Linked DNA regions of Homo sapiens: region 1 is linked to region 2. The links come from fine-mapping of genetic effects on gene expression. A gene starts in region 2. The other region holds a variant in brackets. All regions are shown on one strand. Distances are from middle to middle.

Region 1 (2,910 bases), 160 kb before region 2:
TGTTGTTCTCCCTTCCATGTACACAGTACTTTACAGTTTGCAAAATCCCTTTAGCAATATAGTATCTCATTTAAGCCTCACAACCATCGGAGGTAGGTAGGGCAGGTAATACTATCTTTAAGAGGAATGGCAATGAGGGAACAGCAAATGAGGAAGCTGAAGCCTAGAGAAGGTAGGTGATTTGCCCAAAGTTGCATGATAAACAGCAAAGGCTCTGGAGGCAGGTGGCATAGGTTCAAACCCCAGCTATTACTGATCAGCCTCATAATCTTGAACAAGTTAATACATACCTCCGTGCCTCAGTTTCCCCATCTTTCTTAGAGTTTTTATGAGGATTAAGCAAGTCAATACATGGAAAGCACTTTATTTAAAATGTTGGTGGCCAGGAGCAGTGGGTCACACCTGTAATCCCAGCACTTTGGGAGGCCAAGGCATGCGGATCACTTTGAGCTCAGGAGTCAGAGACTGGTCAACATGGAAAACATGGCAAAACCTGGCCAACATGGTTGACTCAGCCTGGCCAACATGACAAAACCCTGTCTCTACAAAATATACAAAAATTAGCCAGGCATAGTGGCTCACACCTGTGGTCCCAGCTACTTGGGAGACTGAGGCTGAAAGACAGCTTGAGCCCGGGAAGCAGAGGTTGCAGTGAGCCAAGATCACACCACTGCACTCCAGCCTGGGCGACAGAGTGAGACCCCAACTCAAAATAATAAATAAACAAATAAATAAATAAAAATAAAATGTTGTTTGCCGGGTGCGGTGATTCACGCCTGTAATCCCAGCACTTTGGGAGGCCGAGGTGGGCGGATCACGATGTCAAGAGATGGAGACCATCCTGGCTAACACAGCGAAACCCCGTCTCTACTAAAAATACTAAAACAAAATTAGCCGGGCGTGGTGGCGGGCTCCTGTAGTTCCAGTTCCTGGGGAGGCTGAGGCGGGAGAATGGCGTAAACCCGGGAGGCGGAGCTTGCAGTGAGCCGAGATCACGCCGCCGCACTCCAGCCTGGGCGACAGAGTGAGATTCCGTCTCAAAAAAATAAATTAAATAAATAAATAAATAAATAATAAAATGCTGGTATTTTGGGCCAAGCACTGTGGGTCACACCTGTTGTATTAGGTTTTCACACTGCTGCTAAAGACACCCGAAACTGGGAACAAAAAGAGGTTTAATTGGACTTACAGTTCCACATGTCTGGGGAATTTCTCAGAATCATTGTGCAGGGCGAAAAGCACTTCTTACATGGTGGCCGCAAGAAAGAATGAGGGAAGAAGCAAAAGCAGAAACCCCTGATAAACCCATCAGATCTCGTGAGACTTATTCACTATCACGAGAATAGCACGGGAAAGACTGGCCCCCATGATTCAATTACCTCCCTCTGGGTCTCTCCCACAACACGTGGGAATTCTGGGAGATACAATTCAAGTTGAGATTTGGGTTG[G/A]GACACAGTCAAACCATATCACACTGTAATCCGAACACTTTGGGAGGCTAAGGCAGGTGGATAACTTGAGTCCAGGAGTTTGAGACCAGCCTGGACAACATAGTGAAACCCCATCGCTACTAAAAAAATACAAAAATTAGCTGGCCGTGGTGGTGCACTCAGCTACTCGGGAGGCTGAGGTAGGAGAATTGCTTGAACCTGGGAGGTGGAGGTTGCAGTGAGCCAAGATCGCAGCACTGCACTCCAGCCTGGCGACAGAGCGAGACTCCAACTCAAAAAAAAAAAAAAAAAAAAAAATTAGCCAAGCATGGTGGCACATGCTTGTAATCTCAACTACTTGGGAGGTTGAGGTGGGAGGATCTCTTGAGCCCAGGAGGCAGAGGTTGAAGTGGGCCGAGATTGCACCACCACACTCCAGCCTGGGCAGCAGAGCAATATCCTGTCTAAAAAAAAAAAAAAAAAAAAAAAGCCATTTTGTTTGTCATGGATTTTTGTATTCATTTCGATTTTGGTAAATATTGCATTACAAATACTTTATCTTAATTACCAAGTTTGTTAACGCTCCCTTAAATTTTGTCTGGCTTGCTTCACCCTAGTCCTGGCCCTGCTTTGCATGGGGGAATCCTTTAATACACACTAGCTAGTGTCATCCCACTACTTGTTGAATGCTAACTATATGCCAAGAATTGCTGTTAGAAGTTTTATAAGTATACATCACCTCAACAACAAGAAGAAGAAAAATCAGAAACCAAGTTGAAAAGCAAGTGACAGGACAGGAGAAAATATCTGTAGTTTATACAGGCAAAAGATTGGTGCTCAAAATATATAAAGAACTACTACAGATTCATTTTTAAAAAGACAAACTACCCAATACAACAGCAGGCAAAGGACAGAAATGGGCAGTTCACCAAAGAGGAAAAACAGATGGTCAGTAAACATATGAAAAAAACTTTAGCCTCACTGGTTATGAAATACACATTTGGAAGTGTGATGTTATCAAGGGTTGGGAAGAGTGTAAGGAAATGGGATTATAAACTGATTATAAACTGATATAGCCTTTTTGGAGGGAAATTCAGGATCTCTATTAAAGTGAAATTGCATACACCCACTGACTGAGCTATTTCACTTTTGTCTGCGCCAGAGAAACACGTACACATGTGCATGAGGATATTTATCAAAACTTTGCTCTGAATGGCAGTAAGTTGGAAACACCCTAAATGCCCCTCAAAAAGGGAACTGATCAATAAACCACAGTATAGTCATTCTATGAAGTAGAAGCTACAGGGTTTATTTTTAAGGTAGATCATGCTATTAATTTTGGGGTGCAAAAGCAAGTGGTAGAGCCATATGCACTGTATGTTGCCACTTGTGCTTGCAAAAACAACCAGGAAAAAAACAGTACTGAAGAAGTTCTCATTGGCCGACTATCCAACAGTCATTGCCTTCTTCTTTGCTAATAATC
Region 2 (2,910 bases):
GCACTGCAGCCTGGGTGACAGAGCAAGACCCTGCCTCTTAAAAGAAAAAAAAAAAAAAAAAAAAAGCCCTGGCCAGGCGTGGTGGCTCATGCCTGTAATCCCAGCACTTTGGGAGGCCAAGGCTGGCGGATCACAAGGTCAGGAGTTCAAGATCAGCCTGGCCAATATGGTGAAACCCCGTGTCTACTAAAAATACAAAAATCAGCGGGGCATGGTGGCGGGCACCTGTAGTCCCAGTAACTTGGGGGGCTGAGTCAGGAAAATTGCTTGAACCTGGGAGGCAGAGGTTGCAGTGAGCTGTGACAGCACCACTGCACTCCAGCCCTCCAGCCTGGGCGACAGAGCAAGACTCTGTCTTTAAAAAAAAAAAAAAAAAAGAAAAGCCCTTGCTGTATAGAATCCCTTAGGTTATGGATGGGGAGGAGGGCAGGGGTTTAGGAGGGGAGAAGCGGAAGGAGGAACAAAATAAAGAAGAGACAATTAGTTGGAGAGTGATAAATACCATAATGATATCATGGAACTAGGCTTACCAGATCAAACACTGGGCACCCAGTTCAATGTGAATTTCAGATAAGCAATGCATGATTTTTAAGTATAAATATGTCCTACACAGTATTTATACTAGAAAATTATAAATTTTTTTCTAAAATTTACATTGACCTGGGCAGCCTGCATTTTATTTGCTAAACCTGGCAACCCTAATTTGTGTGCTGGGTGGTGGTGAGTGGGCAATTTCAGATAGGCCTCTTTTGTGGAGGTGACATTTGAGCTGGAACCTAAATGTAAAGAAGGAGCCAATCATTCAGGAATCTAGAACATCCCAGCACAGGGAACAGCAAGTATAAATGCTCTAAAGTGGAAATAAGCTTGGAGCTTAGAGGAACAGGAAGAAGGTGGGGTGGCGGAGCTGAGTGAGGGTGAGGAGAGGAGGGAAGCGGAAGGTGATGAGGGCAGGCAGGCTGGCAGGGGCCAGATCCCATATGGTTTGTGGGCTGTAATAAGAGTACCAAAACTTACATACCAGGCCAGGCGCGGTGGCTCACGCCTGGAATCCCAGCATTTTGGGAGGCCAAGGTGTGCGGATCACTTGAGGCCAGGAGTTCGAGACCTGTCTGGCCGTGTCTCCCTCTAAAATAGAAGCTCCAAGAGGGGCAGGAAGTTCTCTTCCGTCTTAGACCCTATGTGCACGACCTTGGATCGATCAACATTGAACACCTCCTACGTGCCAAGCCCTGACATCAAAATGGGTCAGAAGCCAGCAGCCGCTCGCTGAATCTGTGTTCCTCTTTGGAAAACGAGAACCGTGAAGCCTGCTGGCATGGTCAGAGCCAAAGAGCATTGTCACTTGTGAGATCAGCGCAGAAACAGAGCGGGGCCCCGATTGGCCCTTCGAACTTGGGTGGGGCCAGAGCATTCCTGGCCCCGCCCCCTGCAGCGGGCCGCTCGCTCATGCGCTCTGGCCTCAGGCTCGCTGTCGCGCCATTTTGCCGGGGTTTGAATGTGAGGCGGAGCGGCGGCAGGAGCGGGTAGTGCCAGCTACGGTCCGCGGCTGGGGTTCCCTCCTCCGTTTCTGTATCCCCACGAGGTGAGGCGCGGGGCGTGCACGGCCTACCAGAGTGGCTCTTGGGGCCCAGCTGAGGAAGGGATGAGGCGCTCCCGGTACTAACGAGCGCTAGGGAGTGAGAACCGCGCCTCTGGGCGAGAGCGGAATGTGGGCCCGGGGTTCGGGTGGTGCGCTCAGGCAAGGTCTTCGGCTTCCCTAGGGAGCGCTTGCCGCGCCTCGCGGCATCCTAGGTCTCTGGCCCAGGTGCGGCGACCCCAGGGCCTGTGAGGGCTGAGGGCAACTGAGGCGCGGCCTAACGCGAGCCTGCGGATTGCCCGCCCTTTCCTCTCCATCACGGCGCTGATTGGCTGCGCCGCCGCCTCTCCGCTCGGGAAGGCCGCTCCTTATTGGTCGCGCTCGCATGTCCATTCTCTGCGACGGTGGCTGCTAGCCGCGCGAGCTGAGTGTGCGGCGGCGAGGCCTGCCCGGGCGGGGACTGCGGGCGCGTGGAGCTGCGGCTGCCTCGCGTCGTCCCTTGCCCTAACTCTAGTGAAGCCCCCGAACTCACCCTTCTCTAACCTCTGTACTTGTATCCCTGACTGTAAAACGGGCATCGTGATCTCACTTTGCTGAATTGTTTGTGAGAATTCTAGTCGGTACACCCGGGACATAGAAATCCCCTGTAACGCGGGTTGGGGGAGGGTTCCCTCGTTTTGGGAGAAACGCTGTGCTGTGGTGGTTCGGAGCATAGACTTTGGAATTAGATCGCCTGGGTTCATTCCAGACGTAGCCTCTCGTTAGGGGTGTAACTTGAGGCTGGTCACCTCATCTCACTGAGCCTCCATTTCCTTAGCTGCAAAATGGGGTTAATAACAGAATCTACCTCGGAAAGTGGCTTTGAGGATGCGCTGAGTTATTTACCGTGGTTTACAAAGGTTCCCTGGGAGCTGACGGTTGTTTATTCATCTCTCCCACCCATCTTTCTCCTTAGCCAGTGTGGCTTTCTGTTTCTTCCATATTCCAGGGTTATTCCGATTTAAAATTATTTGCACATGCCTTTTGTTTGCTGGGGAAGTACCAACATTTTTGCAAGGCAGGCCGCCTCTCCCAAGTTTCCCTCACCTTAGGCCTCCCCTAACCAACCTCTTCTTTTGTTTTCTTTTTCTTTTTCTTTTCTCTTTTCTTTTTTTTTTTTTTTTTTTTTTTTTTTTGAGAGAGAGAGTCTCGCTCTGCCTCCCAGGCTGGAGTGCAGTGGCGCGATCTCGACTCACTGCAACCTCCGCCTCCCGGATTCAAGCGATTCTCCTGCCTCAGCCTCCCGAATAGCTGAGACTACAGGTCTGAGACTACACGCCACCACACCCGGC

Evidence for each region. PIP is the estimated chance that this variant, and not a neighbour inherited with it, causes the effect.
Region 1: its variant is fine-mapped to the expression of CSE1L in whole blood (INTERVAL, PIP 0.92).

Annotation. Positions count from the first base shown.
Region 1 is chr20:48,886,911-48,889,820 of GRCh38, forward strand. It overlaps a transcript of PREX1 not described here. Among named protein-coding and RNA genes, the nearest start is that of ARFGEF2, 33 kb to the right of the region's middle. The variant G/A (reference allele first, on the strand shown) is at 1,449.
Region 2 is chr20:49,044,839-49,047,748 of GRCh38, forward strand. CSE1L (chromosome segregation 1 like) reads left to right here and starts at 1,474. Exons shown (of 25, transcript NM_001316.4): 1 at 1,474-1,585. CSE1L-DT (CSE1L divergent transcript) reads right to left here and starts at 1,218. Exons shown (of 2, transcript NR_110625.1): 1 at 1,022-1,218. RefSeq lists enhancers at 1,097-1,246, 1,797-1,866, 1,832-2,472.